Homo sapiens: one gene and its partner. The protein of the gene in region 1 interacts with the protein of each later gene in a biochemical or structural test. Each region holds a gene or a part of one and is shown on either strand. Other genes may lie near its edges. The genes, in order: HEYL and HAND1.

Region 1 (10,796 bases):
CTGTTTTTCCAGGAACAAGGAAGCACCTCCTTCCCAGACAAGGTGGAGGCCTTCAGGAGCCCCTCAGTTCCCCTCCCCATCACTGGACACTCAGCCAATGTTTACCAAACACCTACCTGTGCCAGACGCCGGTAGGCATCAGGGAGATCACAGTGAACAACCCAACATGGTTCCTGCTTTTACAGGGATAACAGCCCAGGCCTCAGACAGACATAAACTATTCCACAATTAATAACCACCAACCACCACCCTGGGCATCTCTGTGCCAATCATCCTCTCCTCTGAGACCCCCCAGATACCTCCACCATGCAGCAGTTAGAGGCTCAGTGTCTGCCACAGTGGTCTCTGGAATCCTGTTCCAGTGTATAGTCTATGTGCAAGCCAACCGTTCAGAGCCCAGGCCATATCAGTTTAGTGATCTGAATACCAGCCCCAAGAGCAGACGGGATTGACCTAGTGTGGGCTCAGTGATAGAGAAAGTATTGCTGCAACTGAAACCTGTCGCTGAAAATCTCCAGCTCGCTCAGCTCTGGGACAGACAGAAAGGAGCGGAAGGTAGAATAGAGGGCCCGTCTCGTCCTCCCTCCCTTTGGATTGAGGCTGCCTGCTACTCCTGGGCCTCTCACCCTTCTCCTTACTTCTGACTCCTTCTCCATCAGTGAGCAAATTCTTCCTGAGGCTCTGCTGGTCCCTGGAGTTGCATGGCGTGCCCTCTCTCATTGACCTGCCCCTCTTTTTTGTTTTTTTTTTTCTAGAGATGGGGTCTCACTCTGTTGCCCAGGTTGGAGTGCATTGGTGCAATCAAGGCTCACTGTAGCCATGACCTCCTGGGCTCAGGTGATCCTCCCACCTCAACCTCCTGAGTAGCTGCTATTACAGGCATGAGCCACTGTGCCTGGCTGACGTGCCCCCTTTTTAAACCTGCTTCCGCAACCCTCTACCCCAGACACTTCCCAGTCCATGACATCCTGCCCTTGTCTCTGCCTCCCTTGCCTCTGTTCATTCATCCCAAGGCATCTGTGACCTCCTGATCACACTTCTTTCCTCTTAGAGCCCCTGGACTGGTGACCAAGCCCCTTTTCTCGGCTCCTGGTTGCCTTGGTCCCTGGTGCTCCATTCTCGCAGGATTCTCCTCCTTCTTCCCAGAGAATCTTTGGCTATTGTTTCCCAGGGTCCTAGCCTAGGTTCTCCTCCCTTCTGGATCTGCACTAGCTCCTTGGGACAGATATGTCATGTATCCCATGTCTTCAGCCACCAAATCTCTCCTCCAGCCCAGACCTCTCCCTGGGTTCTCCTCCTGGGTGTGCGCTAGGTCTCACAAACAGCATGGCCATAGTGAGCTCCTTCCCTTCTCCAGTGTTTCCCCTTGGTGCTTGTCACCTTCATCCATTCAGTCACCCAGACAGGAACCCAGTATCACTCGAATCCAGTCCTTATTGCCTGGCCTATTTTAAGAGTCTCCTGATTGGTCCACCCAGCTCTAATGCAGGTTGCAGTGGTTACCAGCATGAATTCTGGCGCCAGACTGCTTGGTTAAAATCCTATTTCTACCACTTAGTAGCTGTGTGATCTTGGGTAAGTTATTTAACCTCCCTGTATTTCAGGGTAACTTATGAAGAAAAGAGGTTTAATTGGCTCACGGTTCTGCAGGCTGTACAGGAAGCACAGTAGCATCTGCTTCTGGGGAGGCCTCAGGGAGCTTCCAGTCATGGTGGAAGGCAAAAGGGGAACAGGCACGTCACATGGCAAAAACAGGAACAAGAGAGGAAGCAGGGGAGGTGCCACACACCTTTAAACCACCAGATCCATGAAAACTCACTATCATGAGAACAGTACCAAGGGGATGGGACTAAACCATTCATGAAAAATCCACCTCCCTCACCTCCCACCAGGCTCCACCACCAACATTGGGGATTACAATTCAACATGAGATTTGGATGGGGACACAGATCCAAACCATATCACCATTCTATTGATATTCCATGCTTGTTCCTACCTCAGGGCTTTCCACTTGCTGTTCCTTCTGCCTGGAATCCTCTTCCCCAGATCTTCTTAGATTCCCTCTCTCCATTCGGGTCTCTGCATAAGTGATTCATCCTCAGAGACGATCTCCTGACCCCTAAGTAAAATAGCCACCAATCCCCCAGTCACCCTATGTCTCCACCTCACTTTATCTTATTTCACAGCATCTATTAATATCACTGACATTACATTATATGTGTTGCTATATGTTTGTCATCCTAAGCTCTGGCCCCTGCAATGTGAGAATGGCCCAATACAAATGGCAAGAAGGCTGTCGTGGGTGAGTGGACAAGGCAGAAAGTGGTTGGGGATGAAGCTGGAGAGATGGGCAGGGGCCTGAGCTTAGGAGATGGTACCTCCAGTGTGCCCTGAACTGCCCTGGCATGATTATTAGTATTGCCTCCTTTCACTCTCAAAGGTGCCCAGGTTATTACAGTTGTTCTGTGTATAGGGCATGGTAAGCAGTTGGCATTTTATTTCAAATGGGATGTGAAGCGTGTGGATGGTTTTGAGCAGGAAGTGACATGATCTGACTGGCATTTTAAAAGGATCATGACCAAGTCCTTGAAACACTCTTTTGGCTCCTGCCCACACCCCCCCACACACACCCCACTCTCCTCCACTGCCCTTTCAGTCTTCTCTGGCAGCTCTTTCTCTTCTACAACCTTTAAATCTTGGAGTTTCTCCAGACTAGCGGTTCCCAACTGGGGGCGATTTCTCCCCCAAGGGACATTTGGTATTTTATCTGGAGATATTTCTGATGGTCACAACTGGAGCGGGTATAACTGGCATCCAGTGGATAGAGGCCAGGGAGGCTGCTTACCATTCTACAATCCACAGAACAGCCCTACACAATAAAGAATGACCTGACCCAAAATGCCAGTAGTCCTGAGGTTAAGAAACCCTGCACCAGATTAGCACCATCCAATAGGAATATCATGGGAGCCAAATATGCAGTTTAACATTTTCTAGTAGTCACATTTTTAAAAACCTAAAAATAAAACAAGGGAAGTTAACTTTACTAATGTATTTTATTTCATCCAATATTTATACAATATTATCATTGCAACATGTAATCATAACAAAAAATATCAATGAGATAGTTCACACTTAAAAAAATTCTGGTGTGTATTTCATACTCACTGCACATACAGCAATTCAGACCAGCCACATTTCAAGTACTTAATAGCCATAGGGGGTTCGTGGCTATTATATTGATGGCATAGCTCTAGGCTCAGTACTGGATAATATATCACAATGTTTAAGAGCTGTATAATTGACGGGGTGTAGTGGCTTACTCCTGTAATCTTAACACTTTGGGAGGCCAAGGTGGGAAGATTGCTTGGCCCCAGGAGTTGAAGACCAGCCCGGGCAACATAGTGAGATCTCATCTCTACCAAAAAAAATTTTTTTTTTTTTTTTTTTTTTTTTGAGACGGAGTCTTACTCTGTCGCCCAGGCTGGAGTGCAGTGGCGCCATCTTGGCTCACTGCAAGCTCCGCCTCCCGGGTTCACGCCATTCTCCTGACTCAGCCTCCCGAGTAGGTGGGACTACAGGTGCCTGCCACCACGCCTGGCTAATTTTTTGTATTTTTTAGTAGAGATGGGGTTTCACCGTGTTAGGCAGGATGGTCTCGATCTCCTGACCTTGTGATCCGCCTGCCTCAGCCTCCCAAAGTGCTGAGATTACAGGCGTGAGCCACCACACCTGGCAAAATGTTGTTTTTTTAATTAGCTGAGCATGGTGGTATGCCCCTGTAGTCTGAGCTATTCAGGAGGCTGAGGTGGGAGGATCACTTGAGCCAAGGAGTTCAAGGTTTCAGTGAGCTACGATGGCACCACTACACTCTAGCCTGGTGACAGAGTGAATCCTTGTCTTTATTTTTAAAAGAAGGGGGAGTACTGTATAAAGTAATAAAGCCTAATGTTTTGGCTCTGGAACTGAACTGCCTTGTTGAATTCCAGCCCTTCCATTTATTGCCTGTTGGCCTTAGGTGGAGTTAGTCTACCTCTCAGCCTTTGTTTCTCACTTGTAAAGTGGGGATTATAATATTACTACTTTATAGGGTTGTCAAGGATTAAATGAGTTAATATTTACAAAAGACTTAGAATAGTTTCAGGTTTTATAATAAGGGCTCACCAAATGTTAAGTATTTAGCTAGGCCCCTGCTCTGTCTCCATCCACGTTTTCTGAATGATCCCATCTGCTCCCATAGCTTTAAATGCCATCAATTACCTAATGACGTCCAAATTTAATATCCAGCTGAGACCTCTGTTCTGAACTCCATACCCTCTATTTAACTGTGCACTGTATTTTGATGATCCAAGACATCTCACATGAAACGTCCATCACGGGGCCCTTGACCTTCCCCTGCAAATCTGCTCCTCTTCCAATCTTTGCTATCTCAGCCAATTACACAGGGCAGCTATCTGGGAGGCTTCCTTGACTTCCGCCTTTCCAGGGAATGCATAACACATTGTGCAACTTCTCTGTTAGTTGAGGTTTCCACTGACTGGCATGTGCCCACAGAAGTGATGTGAGTGCTGAGGGCATTTGGAATGAGAGTCCATAGTTGTGGCTGGGGCGACCACCAGGGCTTCCTGGTACTGATTGCTCACGACAGTTGCGCCTACCAGTATATATTTGTAAGTCTGTCCGTGTGTATGTGTTTGCATACCTGGCCAAATGGTTGTGTCTGTGGATGTGTGTGGACGGGGGCACAGGAACATTCTTTCCCATCAAGTAATCAAGTGTCCCCCAGCAAGCAGGCCTTGCTGTGGGGATGGAAGCACAGTTATTCTCAGATGACCAACCCGATTCTCCCACTTGAAGGGGTGGCTTCCCTCAGGTCCTGACCTGGTGGCGGGTAAAAAGGAAAAGACCTCTCATATCTAACCCAGCACACCAAGACCTCCTCTATCTCCTCTTCCCTGCCCAAGAAGTCCAGCTCCAGGATGCTCTCATGCAGCTTCCTTTGGAGCCTTAGGAGCTTCTCTGAGGTACTGGGCGCCTGAGGATGACCGGTGAATCTGAGAACTTCCCACAAGTCCCCCTAAGGACAGGGCAGCTAGAGCCCTCCCTGAGTGAACAGTTTGATGGGTTGCCAGAAGCAGAGGCCCCAGGAAGAGAGGCTGGAAGGTATCTTCCCTTTTCCTCTCCTTCTCCCACTTTGAGGCCCTGCCATAGCGTCTAGAAGGAGCCCTTTCCTGGCCTCCTGGCCGCCCAGGACAACTCGACCTCTGGTGAACTGGGAACTGATTCCCAGGGACAACCCACCACTGCCACCACGCCAGGCCTTTAGGGACCTCGGCCAGAGCCCAGCTTTCTCAGATGCGGTGGCCACAACTTCAGCCGTCCCTTTTGGGGGTGACTGCCACCTCTCAGAAGTGTAAGTGTCTTCCCCTTGCCCCCACCACACTATTCCACTTGCTTTGGGCCCCTATGGAGTTGCTGCTGGGGAATTCTTGCTGAGGATCAGGCCACAACCACCACGACTAACTTCGACAAACTTGATGTGTCTGCTGCCTCCAGAACACCAGGAGGCAGGAGCGCGCAGGGTTGACCCTTGCGGAATCCCGGGCATCGAAGCGGCGCCTCTACAGGCCAGCAGCGCCCAGGCGACCCAGGGACAGACGGGGACTCCTGGCTTCCCCGCGGGGCCTCCCAGGGCACCTGCCCAAGGCCACCCAGCGCGCGGCAGCCGAGACAGCGGAGCAGAGCCGGACCTCCCAGCCGTCGATGAAGGCGGCGACCGCCTAGGGCCTTCCCACGGCTCGGCGGCGCGTCACCGCGGGGGCGAGGGGGCGCCTGGGCGCCCGGAGCTGCGGCGCAGGAAAGGGCCCTGGGAAAGGGCGGTGGCGGCGCCCCCGAGGCGGGGCCGGGGCGGGGCCGGGGCGGGGCCTGACTTCCCGACTGGGAGCCTTAGCCGCGGGGCTGAGACCAGGCAGCCTGCGTTCGCCATGAAGCGACCCAAGGAGCCGAGCGGCTCCGACGGGGAGTCCGACGGACCCATCGACGTGGGCCAAGAGGGCCAGCTGAGGTAAGGGCCGGGATGCGGGGACCGAGCAGGCGGAGGGCGAGCGGGGTGGGGGTCGGCCCGACGGGCTCGCCGAGCAGGCGGGCCAGCCCTCCAGCACCGCCTGGGCAGAGGCAGGTGAGCGCGGGGGCCACAGGTGTCGGCGTAGGGGGCGTGTGCGGGCCGTGCCGTTACACGCACGAGTGCCTGGATCCTGCGCGCTCTCGGTCGTGCAGGGCTGGGGATGCTGGCAGGGAGGGAGAGTTCAGCTCGGGGGATCAGGTGGCTAGTGGGTTATCATCTATCTGTTGAAGTGGCCTAGGGGAGGCCATTGGCAGGTTTTCCCTGGAGATCTTAGAAAACTCTCATAGACTGATGGTACTCTGGCCCCTGTCTGGAATCTGCTGACGATGCAGAGTAACCCCATCCTTTCCCAATTTTACCCTAGTTTGGATGCAGTTTTCATGTAGTCCACAAATTATTTCAGGAAGAAGAAAATTTGTCCTCCTTTGAGCAAATTGGAGTTTGGATTTAGGGACTTAGTATTGAAGAAAATAATAAGCGACTTGCAAGGGCCTAGACTCTAATTCCAATGTTCCTCCTATCGTGCCCCCATACTGCCAGTGTCTTTCAGCTCCTGGTAGATAGTCTGACCTGCTTCAAACCTGTCGAACAAACTGCGCTTGTATAGTTCTGCTACCTCGCAGTTCTGTAAACTGTCTAAGCTTCAGTTTCCTTATCTGTTAAATGAGCATGAATAATAGAACCAACTTCATGGAAATATTGGGAAAACCAAATGAGGCAAAGTATGTCAAGGGCTTAGCACAGCACATGCCTAGGTACACACCATGTGATTCCCAGCACCCTGAAAGAGCTGCAGGGCTGACTGGGAGTCTGCAGACCTGGGTCCCAGCCCCAAATCTGCCACCAACTCACTATGTGGTCTTGGGCCATTGGTTTCCCTGACAGAGTCTGTCATCAGTTTCCCCATCAGTAAAACAAAGACAGCAGTGGAAAAGAAAGGGATATACTTCATCTCTCTTGGCTCATCTAGACTTGACTCTCTAGAACAGAATTGGAGGGGAATTCAGTTAATTCTTTCTTTCTTTCTTTTTGACATGGTCTCACTCTGTTGCCCATGCTGGAGTGCAGTGGCATGATCATAGCTCATGGCAACCTTGATCTCCTGGGCTTAAGTGATCCTCCTGCCTTGGCCTCCCAAAGTGTTGGGATTACAGACATAAGCCAGTGAGCCAGGCCCAGTTAATTCTTAGGGATGTTTTTGAGGACATTTTGTAATTTTAGTGCTCTCCAGTTTTCTGAGATCCAAGGATCCTGCCTCAGTCTCAAATCCCAGGAAAATGCCATAATAGATATTCCTCTTGCAGCCTGTACATTTGTTTTTAGGGAGTATAACACAACTCGCTATGCAACGTATTAGCCTTTCTTAATTGTTTAGCAGAAACTGCTATTTAGAAAAGCAGTTATCTTAGCCTGTGCCTGTTAAGGGCCAGGAAAGGGCACAGCACCACGTGGTGGTGGTGGAGCGGGGTCTCAAATTCAATGGCATTGGGTCTTCATAGATCAGAGGCACAAAATTGATGCCAGAGAACTAGGTTGATCAGAGCTGGCTTCTGTCCTCCACAAGTTTGCAGCCCAGTCAGTGACCTGCCAGGTCATAAAAACACCATGGACAGGATGGAAAGGAGACAGACTGTGGGCTGTGAGGGCACTTAAGCAAAGAGAGGTCACTCTTAATCAAAGATGGCAAGGAGGGCTTCTTGAAGATAGTAGCATCTGGGCAACTGCTTACATGAGGCATAAAGGATCAGTGGGCAGTTTTTTCCTATACATACAGCATTTCCTATATATACAGAGCCCATTTTTAGACACTGTTCTTAGAGGAGCAGACCCCTCTGAGGAGAGAAAGCAGCTGGACATCTGGCAGAGGCTGACTTATAGATGCCCCTTTGTAGCACTCACCAAAGGGCCCTTCCCCCAGCAGACATCAATGCTTCAATTCAGGGAGCACTGAACGATGCCTGCTGTGGCCCAGACCCTGGGCTGGGCATAGGGGGCCCAGATGTATCCTGCTCAGCCTCTGCCCTCAGGGAACTCTCAGGGAAGAAGAGCTTCATGTACAAAGAAAGCAGATAAACACTGACAAAGGCCGCAGGACGGAGGCAGCCAGCCTCTCGGGGTCAGGGGCAGGGCGCAAAACCCCCACACTCAGAAACGTGAGAGTAAAGAGCAGGGTGTGTTCCACCATCACTGTGGCATCTGCCTGGTGGCAGTCCTGCCACATCTGTGAAACTCACCCACAGAGCTCTCATCTCAACCTGGCCCCATGACGCAGGATGAGTCCAAACTGAGAGTACAGCCTCTCCTCTCCCTCTGCAAACATCTAATGAGCACCTGCCACATGTCAGACACTGGATCAGGGTCCTGTTCCTGCACAATATAAGGTGGTGGTCTTGGAGTCAGATAGACCTGAGTTTGAATTTTACCACCATTAACTTTGGCCAGTGACTTTTACCCCTTTCTGAACCTCAGTTTTCTCGCGTTCAAAATGGGAATACATTAGCACTCCTGCCTCGCAGGATAAGGTTTGATGAAGTAACATACATAAAGTTACATAGCTCCCTGCTTTGGCACAAAGTAACTTCCAATAAACGTTGCTGTCAAAGCGGTCACCATTCAGTTGGGGGGCAACATATTTATGAGACAGCATGGTCTAATGAAAAGACCGGAAGTGTGAAGACTGGACTTACTGGAGTGATTCTTAACTCCAGTGTCTCTGTCACTCCACCTGTAAAATGATTATTTTTCCTAAATGTGAAATGGCCCAAAAAATACTTCACTTACAGTGCTATTGTGCAATAAATTAGACAAATGGATGTGGAAGTGCAGTATAGAACAAAAAGCACTGGCTCTGAGATCTACATGACGGGATGATGTATATATGGGGTGCACTGGCAAAAGCCCCAGATTAAAAGCCACTAGAGGCCGGGCACGGTGGCTCACGCCTGTAATCCCAGCACTTTGGGAGGCTGAGGTGGGTGGATCACGAGGTCAAGAGATCGAGACCATCCTGGCTAATATGGTGAAACCCCATCTCTACTAAAAATACAAAAAATTAGCTGGGCATGGTGACACGTGCCTGTAGTCCCAGTTACTTGGAAGGCTGAGACAGGAGAATCACTTGAACCTGGGAGGCGGAGGTTGCAGTGAGCTGAGATTGTGCCACTGCACTCCAGCCTGGGTGACAGAGTAAGACTCTGTCTCAAAAAAGAAAAGAAAAAAAAAAAAAAGCTACTAGAGTAGACCTGGCTGTAGTTCCGATTTTCCTCTAATTTGCTGTGTGGCCTGGGGAAGATCCCTTCCCCTCTGAGTTTCCTTATTTTACAAATGGACTCAGTTCTCTCTGAGATTCCTTCATTTGGGACATTGTGATTCTGCCTTTGGCTGACACAAAATGATTAGGGTCATCTGCAAGGGTTCCACGGGGGAGTTCCCAGGGGAAGTCAGCACTGAGGGTGGTCAGGACCACCTGGAAAGCTTCCCCCCATAAGAGACCGCCCCAGAATTCTGGCTAGGAGCCACTAGAGGCCTATGGAGCAGATCTTGATGGTCAACATATCTTCTCTGGGTCCATGAAAATCTGTGTCATTTTCAGATTCTCAGACAAGAGAATCCCACACCTCATCCCACTGTCAGGGCCAGATCGCGGGCTGGAAGGGAGCTCTGGCTGGGCTCTTGGGAACTTTAAAAATAAGGGGACCGGAGGGCTATTCAGACAGACAGGAAGTAGGAATTAGAAGGGAAAAAATGCTGAAGCGGAGCCAGAAGATGCGGATTCCCTGCTGGCTTTGCTCCTTAGCAGCTGGGTAGGCTGGGCAACCTGCTTTAGCTCCCTGAAGCTCAGCAACCTCATCTGTAATATGGGCTTTTGTAAGGCTCAAAGGAGGGAAAGACATATAATGTTGCCAAGAAAACTGTAATGTGAGGTTTGCCTCTGAGATATGGGAAGAGGAGAAGGGGGGAAATAATACGACAGGGACAAGCTGACCAGGAGATTGGAAAAAGGAATGGCAGCACTGCTTTGCCCTGAAATGGGTGCGTCAGCCTCCAACAGATGGTCCCAGCGGAGGGATCAGGCTGAGAGGCAGTGACGTGTGCAAGGCTAACCTAATACCCGGAAAGACGCTTTATCAAGCTGGGGGGAACAAAGGCCGTGTTTCTTAGTGTGTCTTGGCTCTTGGGGTTTGTCCCCAGTGAACCAGTGAGGCTTTGTAAACAAGCTGCCCCATAGATCTCAAGATCTGGCCTTACAAGCCCTGGACCTAGCTTGCTGGGTCCTCCCTCCCAGGAGCTATTATAGACCTCTTACCAGGTCGGCTTGTCCAGATGTTTGGGTGGGAGATATCCTTTTCCAGATGTGTCTGGACAAAGCCAGAGACATAGCAGTAGGATTTGACAAATGCTATCTGGTCTCTTCTGCAACCTTCTCTGAGCAGTTGATGAAAATGATCCAAATTCAAATGCCAAAAGGGTTGGGACCCTTGGGCTGGGACCCTTGTGTTAAGTCATATACGCCCCCATTCCACAAAGTCCTAGGCCATAGATTTTATGGTGCTTACATCTCTGTTCCCCAGTGATGCCAAAGACATGGGTGAGAGAAGAAAGCTCTACCATGAGTTCTGCTGTATTCCAAGCCCTTGCTGAGTACTGAAGCTGCAATAGTGAATGTAACAGACAT
Region 2 (11,124 bases), on another chromosome or scaffold:
TCCATTACAATCTGACGCAAAATGTTAGGATGCATCTGCCAGCACCCAGGCTCCATAGATCTCCTCCAGGCTCAGAGAGGGTCTCTTCGGCAAGCAAGCTGATTAGTGTGTGGTTCCAACCAATGTTTATCCTCTCTGGCTCTGTGGCAAACGCCCTTGGAAAAACCTGGATCCATTGATGCTTGGTCGACTGGTACATTCAGATTCACTCAATTAGAACACCCAGTTTGAGACATAATGGGTTTTGGCGAGCTCCATAGACTGATAGGTTTTTATACACATGCACAGAAAGATTTGATTTCCTCTGCGGAATTTATGGCAGGGGAGAAGAGGTAATTACATTAATTTCTGGTCTGGTTTCTGGGGCTTTCCCTTCTGTTCTCTCTTCTCCTGCCACTTTTTTTTTTTAAGTAGACTTTTTTGGGACCTTGCTTGTATGGATGAAAATGAATTTAATAACTGCCAACAGTTGGTTTGAGTTTGAGGCTGGGTTCCACTGTGACTTCTTGTTCTTTGAGCCGTGCTCTGGGTGAGTTTTAGGAAGCTAATGTGGACAATCTTGTATCCTCTGGTGTGTGTGGGTGAGATGTTGGGGGTGTCCATGTGGCTAGGGAGCAATGTTCACACTGGGAAGAGGTGCTCAAACCCAGGCTTTCTGGAAGGGAACTTGCTCTAATAGTTGATAATGAAGTGAAAACCAAAGTGTGCTCCCGTTTCTTCAGTCACCATTCATGAATCGCCACTTTTTTTTTTTCCCTAATTTCTGTTTTTTCTGTCGTTCACTTCTCTTTACACCTCTCCCTTCCAGGGCAAAACTCAGCTGCAGCGTGGAAATAGTAAGGCAGAAAGAGGCTGAAATCCAGAAGGGTGCTGGTAAGATTGACCATGGTAATGAAGAGGATCAGCACAGTTTACCGTGTTTGCAGTGTTCTTACTCCACTCCCGTCTCCTTTCTGATGCCAAGGCTCTTCTATCCATCCTTGACTTTTTAACAAAGGACTTCCCTCATTAAACTGAAGAGACAAAGGAGACTCCTGAGGGATTTAGAAATTCAATGGAAAAAGCAAAAAAAACAAAACAAAAAAACTCTCAGAGCACTTAACTTCTCTCCCAAAGGACCAGAGAGCCTGCCAATTCCCCAGCAATGCCAGAGCTAAGCATTTTCCCAGTGTCAACATTAAATCCCTTTTTTGTTTTTCTCTTTTAAAGTGTGTTTACAATTGACCATTATGGGAAAGATGATGGATGTGGCCTGGCCCCGTTTAAAATAATAAGGCTAATAATGATACAGTTGTTTCGTGCATACGGACTCTTTCTGAAAGCCTGTGAGCAGAAGGAAAGGGTTGAGGAGCCCAGTGTTTTCAACTTAAGTGTAGCCAGCTGCCGATCATCCCCACGACCCATTGCTAGCTATAACACTTATGCTCCGGCAGACTTCGGAACCTCTTGGCTCCTGCATGCTCTTTTGGAGAAAAGAGCACAGAAGTTTTGAATGAATCTCCAGACCCTGTCCCTGAGATAGCAAGGCTTAGATGGACAAGCCTGGAGTGGACAGCTTGCATTGTGCCCCATGGGGACTCTGCCAGAGAAGCGCATGATCCTTAAGACAGAGATATGGCTCAGTCCTGTATTCCAGGAGAAAGTAGACTCAATGTTTGCTCATGAAATGTCCCTGCGTCCAGCTCTGCTGGTCGTGTCCCTGGCGAAGACTCCCCACCTATGTAGCCAGCAGCATCTGTCCTTGGATACACCATCCCGGCTCTAGCTTTTCCCCAGTAATCAGCTGGCTTTCGCTGGCAGGAGGACCCAGGAGATAGGTAAAGTGGGTTGATTCAGTCCTTGCTGTGGAATTCAGATTAGACTGGGAAAGGAAAAAATTCTCCTGACCAGGGATGCAACAGTCAGGCAGTGAGAATGACCTTCGTGACAATGAGCCGAGATAAGCCTCTTGGCATGAAACAGCTCGGCAGGCAATGATCAGTGGTCTAGGGATTGGCTACAAGTGGCCCGACCCGACCCGGGGAGCAACCGAGCACCAGGAAACTAACCAGCATGTGAGGAACAAAAAAAATCTCCCAATATGCCGAAAACAGCCTGGTGCACAGCAAAACTTCGTTAACAGGCGGCCTGGAGCTGAGTGCTGTGAAGCTGACCAGAATGAAATTGCCCTGAAAGCAACGGGACTGGGTAAAAGAAACCGGAGTAAAATCCACCTGCCTGCTAGTGTGCAACTAACCACTGCGAGGGATGGGAGAAGGGAGGGTCTCGGAGGGCCGCAGGGTGGACCGGGAGGAGACAGGACTCCTGGTGTTCTGGAGAACCTGACCGAGCTGCTTCGGGGATGGGGGAGGGAGGTGTCCAGTGCCTTTTGATTTACAATCGCTGCGCCCCAAGCGATCCCATAAATTTGGGGGCCGTTTTCACCAAAACCGTGAGTTACGATTTTTCAAATAAATACATTTTCCAATCAGACCGGGTTCTGTTTAGGTTGAACGCGTCCCGAAGCAGACATCTCTCTGTGCGGAAAATACACAGAGGAGGAAACGGAGCCGGGACGAAGCTCAGACGACATAAAAACTTATGTAAACACATTGTCATTTACGGGCTTCGGAAGAGAAAGAGAATGAGGGGAGGAAGACAGAAAAAGTTGGGGGAAACACATACATGTTTAATTCTCCCTCGAATCCTCAGGTCCTAGCCCAGAGGGAGGTTAGAAAATGTAATATTCTTTTTCCATAAGCTTGATTTATGTTACTCATTGGACAATAGGCAGCAGCAGGTTTACCTTAAATAGATTTTGTATTTTTGAGGCCTGTTACAGGCCTGAGAATGAGCACAAATGACCCCCCCCCCTCGTACACACACACAGCCACACACATATATGCATAGGCACTCTCTCCTAGTTTTTCTTTAAGAAAGAGCGTGGAGGAGATAAACCAAAATGAATTATTTTAGCAGGGGAGGGTCGTCGATTTCTATCTGTGTGCCCTTGGGCAAGTCTCTCCCCATCCTCTGGGCCTGTGTTTTGCCCGTAATCAGGGGCTACCGTTGCGCAGAAAAGCATTGACACATAATTCTGTGCACAATGGCAAGAACCTCCTGGCCAAAATGTAAAGAACGTCACTTCCTGCTTGGACCCTTTCTGGCCTGACCACCCTCGTCTCAGGAAAGAAGGTAATAAGGGGAGACAGAGGCTGCTGTTCACCCCAGGTCCCCTCTGGAGATCTGGGCTTTAGCCGCGCGTCTGCCACTCATCGGCCGTGTGCCCTTAGGAAAGTTCCTTCCCCTCTCTGGGCTAGTTTCCCGTCTGCAAACAGAACCTTGGAGCTCCCAGGAGCAATCTACTCCGTGCCTATCTCTTCCCTGCCCCGACTGTCCCCCATCCCTGGGAGCAGGCTGGGCCAGATTGGAAAGTCCTAGGTCCTCTTCAGACATGGCAGAGAAATGTTTAAGGGATTTGCGCGCTCAAGCTGCGGGGTAAATGGTCCGCGGGCTGATTTATGGCGCGTTACTGCGCGACGCGATTCCCCAAGACAGCGAGAATATTTTACACCGCGCTAATATAAACAGGCGGCCGGCCGGGTCCTTTTTATGGAGTTCCTGTAATTACCCGGGCCCTGACAGGTCCTTGATTTACTGCCCTATTTAGATAAGGGGTCCGGTGCGGGGATTGCCCGTGGCGTCAAGGTCACGGGACTGCGGCGGGAGAAGGTTTTGCGGTAGGCGCCGCGGCCTGGGCTTCCAGAGGCCTGCCAGTCCGGGGGGCGCGGATAGGGGTGAGGGTAGGAGAGGGGCTAGGGCAAGAGCGAGACCCCACCACTGCAGAACGTCCAGGCTTGAGGGACCTTCGCATTGCCCGGGTACAGCTGTCCTACTGTTATGGTTGGGGGAACTGAGTCCCGTAGGTGACAAGACTGCACCCCCCACCAAGTCATTTAGGGAGGGACATGGGGGTGGAGGGTGGAATCTGGAACTGGAATTCGGGTCTCTGGCAACATAATTCCTACACCTGGCGATGTCTCTGTATCTCCAGTCTTATGATGGCTGGGTTGTGTAGGGTCAGTAGGGAATGGGAAGGAACCTAAGGCAGTCAGAAGCAGCTAGGTCAGGTCAGAACAGAGCCCTGCAAGGAGGATTCAGTGTCCTGGTCCTTCTCCCCATCCAGAGCTTTGTAGTCATGTGGCGGCATGTAATTCCATTTCCGCCCCTATGAAATTAATATTCCTAAAAACAGAGCCACCATTTATCCAGGTTTACTGTCACTGTGCTAAGAGCCTCGCCTTGTGCTTACTCTTACGCCAGCCCTCCACAGAGGTTATTATTGTCCTCCAATTTACAGAAGAGAAAACTGAGGTGTAGAAGCTTCACACAGGGAGGAATGATGTGCACAGTTTTAACTCAGATGGGCCCGATTCCATAGCAAGGTGGAATGTGTTTTATGTGCATAAGCCCTCTACTTTGTAAAACAGGGTAAAGAAGAGTTCCTGCCGGGTCTCACCACTACAACTGGGGGAAGAAACGAGAAGCCTGCATTTGAAAATACTAAGAAGGCCAACCCCCCTGAAGGCACTCTTTAGGTGAGCAAGGTTCGTTAAGAGGAGGCTGCAGGGGCAGTGTGGGCTAGGACCCTGGGAGTTCTAGTCCTTGGTCTGTTGAGGTAGGCAAGAGGAAAGCGGAGTCCTTCTGTAGGGATCCCTGAGCTGAGCACTAAGTCCCAGGAGGAACCAGGGCAGGGTCCCTGCAATAGTGAGGAGCTGGGAATTCCAGAATTCCAGACTATCAATCCTATTCCCTTCTTCTGCAACTGGGGAAACTGAGGCTCGGACTGGAAAGGAACAAAGAGGTGCTAGATAGGGAAAGCCAGGACTCTTGCCTGTCACATCTCTTGCCTGCCAGCCTAAAGCAATTTTAGCCAAAATCCTAGGTCTCAGACCTCCTCCTACAATATAGCTTGGGCAGAGATAGAGAACAACCTTACAAGGTCCCCACCATCCCGGGAGTTCTGCTGCTCTCCACGGACTACAGTAAAGCATTTTGGGGTCTCTGAGAAGGCAGTCTAGAGCCTAGTTGTACTGCAGTCTCCCCCGACGTCATCCTGCTGGGGGTTGCCCCAGCCCCAAGCCTCAGGAGATCCCTTAGGGCTGAGTTTCTGGTGGGGGCACCGCTTGAAAAATGACACTGAATACCTTCTCTAGGTTGGGGAACAGTGCTTTCCACATCACTGGCAGCTGGAGACACCCTGCTCTTTAAGACCCATGGGGGGCTGCCAGGTAGTCTCAGGGGCCCTCAAGGGGTGTCATAGGACTGGGACTCCTCACCCAGTACTGATAATGCATTCCCCACCACACTAACCAGGCCAGATATATGGGGGATGTATACAACCTTGAGTGATCTGTGTAACATCATAAAAGCAACTAGGACTCATATGGGCAGGCGCGTGGGCCACACATTTGTATGTGTGTTATGTGTGAGCATGTGAGAACCTCTATTTGTGAGCACCTGTGCATATGTAGTAGATATTGTGACTGTGTACTTGTGCACTGAAGGCTTAGCGGTGACACTGAGAATATACAAAATGTATGATGGGATTTTGGAAGTTTGTGTTGCGAATACAATTGTGGAGAATCTTAGGAAGATACAAGCTGGTTTAAATTGTGGCAATGAGATTATGTGTGAAACCCTGCATTTGTGTAGTATTCAGAATTTATGTGTTTCTACCATATGACTTTGGTCTCTGTGCATGCCTGAATGGAGGATTGGGAGCGGCTCCCAGGTGTAACACATCTGAAGCGTGATGAGTATGTACCCTGTGGGTGACAGAGAGACAATGTGTAAAATCCTAGGAATGCATGAATGCTGTGTGTACCGTGGCTGTGCGTATTACTGTGAGAATACACATACTTTTGGGCGTCTTATGAAGATACGGGCTTTTGTGTACGGCGGCAAGGTTTTGTGAGCCCTTGTGCATGTACCTGTGAATGTATAATCTGAGGGCCTAGTGTGCCGCTCTGAGAGGCACTGTTGCAGATTGTACTTGGATTAGGACAAAGACTGGGCGTGTGTTGAGGATTGTGTGTTGAGGTCCTTCTCTCCACAGCGTAATTACTCTCTACCTGCGCTCTTTCTAGAATGCCTCCAGGCCAGGGAGGCTTGGGACCCCGCAGAGCCGCCGCAGCAGCGGGCCCCCAGCGCTCCCTCCCCGCGTGCCTCCGGCTCCGCGCTCTGCCCTACCCCAGCGCTGCTGGCGCCAGGCGCCGGGGAGAGCGGGGGGTTTCCAGCCCGCCTCGGGCAGGAAACCAGGACCTCCCTGCACCACCCCCCCATGCACCTCCAGGGCCCACAGCCCTGCTGAGCTCCCACAGGTGGAACCAGCAGGCCCAGGCTTTTGTCTCCGTCACTCCTGTATGTAACCCCCCACCCTTCATTCACTCTCTTGTCCAGGAGTGGAATTCCACTCATCCACTCCCTACCGGACCTCGAGAAAATCGCTCTTCTTCTCTGGGCTTCACGTTCCATATCTGTTCAAGGAGAGAATGGGCCTTTCTCCCTCTGTCTTTGGACTAGTAACTATGATAGGCACATAGTAGGCATCAATAAATAATTGTTGAATGAATGGGTGAATGATTTGCCTTCTAAAAAGAGCACTCACATTAACTTCTCCTTTCCCCCTCCCCTCGACTTTGCTTTGAAGAGAGGCACACTCCCTCTACCACACCGAGGGAGGGGGCGTTGAGCTGAGAAAGGTTGAGAGAATGAGGGACCCAGGTAGGTGGACATCGGCCAAGAAAGGAACCACAGCGGGAGGTAAGACCGAGAGTCCCCAGCTTGAAGCGTCACCACTCCGGGATTCCCAGATTCCAACGCGAGCCTGGGGAAAGCCCACAGTGGAGAGAGTCCGGCTGGCAGGGAATGGCCCTACCCCCGGGGTGAAATCTCGGAGGGTCGTGCAGCCGAGTCGCGCCTCTGCGCTGATGCGTGAGAGATGCCGGACGTCGCGTTTGCCTGTGCGAGCCTCGCGGATGCTGTGCAGTCTTGGTCCCCTCTGCGTGTGTCTAACGCCGAATGCTGGTGTCTCGAGGTGTGAGCTTCGGGGCCGGTGTCTTTAAAGAACCAAAGATTCTTAAGGAGTGATGATCTGGGTAGAGCGGCCCGACGTAGCCGCGCTCCCAGGTCTCGGTGCGAGTCCTGCGGACAGACCAGAGGAGACCTGCTGGCCAGATGCCCCGGGCCCAAGGCGGACGCCAGACTGTCTCTGCGCCAGCCGGGCTGGCCTTCGGAATGGATCAGGCACCCGGGAGGCCGGAGTGGATCTCAGACCCTCAAGCCGGGAACAAACCCGTCGATGCCCGTGGGCCTGGAGTCCGCCTCCTCCTTCCCGCCCCACCCCTACCCCTGCCTCCGAAAGGCTTCTTCGCTGGTCAGTAGCTGCGTGCCCGTCTGCCTGAGGCTGGGTCAGAATTGGCGGGCTGGTAACGACCCCGTGCACAAGCGGCTCCCAGTCTCTCCAGAAAGGGCCGATGACTAAGGGGTGGGGGTGGGGGCGGAGGGCTGGAAGGTGTTAGGGAAGAACGTTAGCGGCCTATCCTGTCTTCAGCAGCGCCCTCTCATCTTCTAGCTCTGACGCCGAGCAGAGCAGTTGGAGCTCGGGACTGGGAACTGCTGGAATTCCTATTTAGACTTCTAGACAGTCTAGAAACAAGAACCTTTCTTTCCCTGGGCCTCAGTTTCCTTGTCTGTAAAATCAAAAGGCGGGCTCTAGGTGTAGGCCTTCTTTTCGCTTGGTGATTCTGGATTCCTTTCCTTGGATCCGTGGGGAGGGGGTGGCAGCAACAGTCCAGGGCGTTGGCCGTCCTGTGCCTCAAGTACGTAGTCCCCGTGCCCGCCCCCTCAACACCCCCAGCAGCCCGCCCCCCTAAGCCCGCAGAGCAGGGAGCTGAGTGGGAGGGGCAGAGGCGGGGCCGGTTCCCAGTCCCTGCTGGCGGACTAGAGTGGCGCGGGCTGAGCGTAAAACCTGGGATAGCCACTCCCCCTTTTCCTTATCCCCGCCCCCCTGCCATTGGCTCCCGGGAGAGGTTGACATCAAAGCCGCGGTCTTATATAAGCCAGATCCGCAGGGGAGTCCGCAGAAGGGTTAAACAGGTCTTTGGGCTTCGGCGACCTCGCCCGCGGCAGAAACCGGTAAGAAGACAGTGGGCTGCGCGTCTCATTTTCAGCCTTGCCCGGACTCTCCCAAAGCCGGCGCCCAGTAGTGGCTCCAGAGCCCACAGGTGGCCCCCGGCAGTCTCTGGGGCGCATGGAGCGGCGTTAATAGGGCTGGCGGCGCAGGCCAGTAGCCGCTCCAACATGAACCTCGTGGGCAGCTACGCACACCATCACCACCATCACCACCCGCACCCTGCGCACCCCATGCTCCACGAACCCTTCCTCTTCGGTCCGGCCTCGCGCTGTCATCAGGAAAGGCCCTACTTCCAGAGCTGGCTGCTGAGCCCGGCTGACGCTGCCCCGGACTTCCCTGCGGGCGGGCCGCCGCCCGCGGCCGCTGCAGCCGCCACCGCCTATGGTCCTGACGCCAGGCCTGGGCAGAGCCCCGGGCGGCTGGAGGCGCTTGGCGGCCGTCTTGGCCGGCGGAAAGGCTCAGGACCCAAGAAGGAGCGGAGACGCACTGAGAGCATTAACAGCGCATTCGCGGAGTTGCGCGAGTGCATCCCCAACGTGCCGGCCGACACCAAGCTCTCCAAGATCAAGACTCTGCGCCTAGCCACCAGCTACATCGCCTACCTGATGGACGTGCTGGCCAAGGATGCACAGTCTGGCGATCCCGAGGCCTTCAAGGCTGAACTCAAGAAGGCGGATGGCGGCCGTGAGAGCAAGCGGAAAAGGGAGCTGGTGAGTCCTGGGGCTTGCATGCTCCAGCCAAGGGTGCAGGAGCGGTGAGCAGCCTCAGGCCATGCAGGTAGTCGAAGGAGGCTGTGTTGTCCTGTGTCCGATTTGGAAAGGTTGGGAAGAGTTCTGAGATGGTTGGTCACAGCGTGCGATCCTGTGCATGGAGGGAGGCAGATTCGTCATAGAATTCATTTGTAATACGGGAGAGTGTTTGTAATACTGAGTGAATAATCTGTTTGGAGCCTCGGACCCTCCAAAAATGCACACACCACAGGTTTTGCTTCCAATTTGGAGAAGTCCTGATTCATTCCTGGGCTCTCCTGGAAGCCAGGTTAAGAATATGTGTTAAAGTTCTTTACTTTGAGTTTGAATTTATGTGCCCGGGCTCGGTTCCTGTTTTCAAAGGGCCTTTGCTGGACCGGCTAGTCTACTTCCATCATTGTATAAATAGGGAAACTGAGGGCCCAGAGTGGGTCGGGGCAGGAAAAGCACCTATCTGAGGAGTCCAGGGTGGAGGTGAGGTAAAACAGATCGGGTCTTCTACTCAGTCCAGGGCCAGTTCTGGTTCTCCCCATGGACTGGTTCTGAGGACGACTTCAGTGGCTTTGCATGTAAATAAGAGCCACTTCTTTTAGCTTTGGAGAGCGCAGTCTCGTCTTGGCCTTCTTGATCCTCTCCGGTTAGGGTGACACTTCCTGGCACTCGGTCTGGCTGTCCGGGGCTGGGGGCTTCTGAGCGCTGGGTTTTCAGGCTGGCCAATCAGTTTCTCTAGGTTGGGGGGCTTAAGGCCGTAGCGGAGTGGAGCCAGCTGAAGCGCCCCACCTGGTTTATCCAACCTGCGGGGGCCTGTGGTAAACTGACGAAAGCTCATCCAGGGACGAGGGAAAGATAAATAGGCATCGAGTCTCTAAACGGCTGCCCCGGACTGGGGATGGTGCAGGCCGGCTTCTTTCGAGGTGCGGCGCCTCGAAAGAAGTTGTTATTGGGCGGATCCCGGCCCCCACGCGTCGCCGCCTCCTTCAAGTAGCACCGCTTGGTTCCTGCTGAAAGAGCGGGAAGGAGGACGCTAGGCCAGCTCGACTCCCCGCTCTTTTACCTCCGTATCTGAGGCTCCCAGCTCCGGCTTAGGGGGCCCCAAGCCTGCATCCAAGCCCTGATGTTTAAACCAGGTTGGGAGGCTGGCGGAAGTGTGTGGGGTGCAGCGAGAGCGGGAGAACCGTGGATTTCCACCCCTCCCTTCCAATATCCTGGGATCTCCCTTAGGTGTCCTAAAGCCAAATCAACGCGCGTCAGTTTCACCAGACGCAGAACATTTTCCTTACCAAACCTCCCGAAGCTGCCCAGCCCATCCCGGGTCCCAGGAACTCCGCGCATAAAGGCAAATTTACGAGCCTGTTTGCCTATTTCGCAAACAGAAATCCGTCACTTATTTAAAGACTCCCAGTTACTGCTCCCGACACCTTCCCCTCCTCCTCATCTTACCCCATGCCGGGCGATCGGAGCAGAAAAATTAAAACCTGTCTCTCCCGCCTCTTTTCTTCTGTGTGTCCTTTGGCAGCAGCAGCACGAAGGTTTTCCTCCTGCCCTGGGCCCAGTCGAGAAGAGGATTAAAGGACGCACCGGCTGGCCGCAGCAAGTCTGGGCGCTGGAGTTAAACCAGTGAGCCGAGGCCCGCGCCGAGGACCTGGCCAGGCCAGCCACTCCTGAAGCCCCGGGAGGAGAGGAAGGCAGCGGCGAACGCCAGGCTCTGGGCTCCGGCGACTGGTGCTACGCATCCCGCGGAGCTTCTGCTGAGCGCCGGCAGGTCGTCGGCTGCAACCACACACTTGGATCGCACGTGCAATGTCCTTTGATTTTTTTTAATACATTAAGAGAAAGAGAAATATATATATATCCACCCCCAGCCCAACCGAGGGCGGCCCTTGGCGGCAACATGCAAGAAGGAGGGACTGTCGAACCCAAGGGCTCAAAGACGCACTCTTCCACCCTTTTGGAGCGAATTTAGAACCTCAGCCCTATCTCCATTTCCCTATCTGGCTCTTTCTCTCTTGTCCCTCCATATGATCCGCCCCGACGCCGTCTTCTCTAATTAAAATGCAATAAGGAATCAATTCTTTTCTGCCTGAGAAAGAGAACCAGACGCAGGAAGATGAAAGGCTGCCCTTTGTTCTTCGAATCGTGGTGGTTTTATTTTATTTTTCTTTTTGTCGCTGCACTTCCTGTTTAGTTCCAAGGGAAACA

The links.
Region 2: the proteins of HEYL (region 1) and HAND1 form a complex in vitro, tested with the Homo sapiens proteins (one study listed by BioGRID).

Annotation. Positions count from the first base shown.
Region 1 is NC_000001.11:39,634,811-39,645,606, reverse strand, and holds the start of HEYL (hairy/enhancer-of-split related with YRPW motif-like protein), read left to right. Parts: upstream 1-5,963; 5' UTR 5,964-5,981; coding exon 5,982-6,061; intron 6,062-10,796. UniProt on the Homo sapiens protein: Downstream effector of Notch signaling which may be required for cardiovascular development. Transcriptional repressor which binds preferentially to the canonical E box sequence 5'-CACGTG-3'.
Region 2 is NC_000005.10:154,475,228-154,486,351, reverse strand, and holds the start of HAND1 (heart- and neural crest derivatives-expressed protein 1), read left to right. Parts: upstream 1-8,124; 5' UTR 8,125-8,343; coding exon 8,344-8,886; intron 8,887-10,441; coding exon 10,442-10,546; 3' UTR 10,547-11,124. UniProt on the Homo sapiens protein: Transcription factor that plays an essential role in both trophoblast giant cell differentiation and in cardiac morphogenesis. Binds the DNA sequence 5'-NRTCTG-3' (non-canonical E-box). Acts as a transcriptional repressor of SOX15.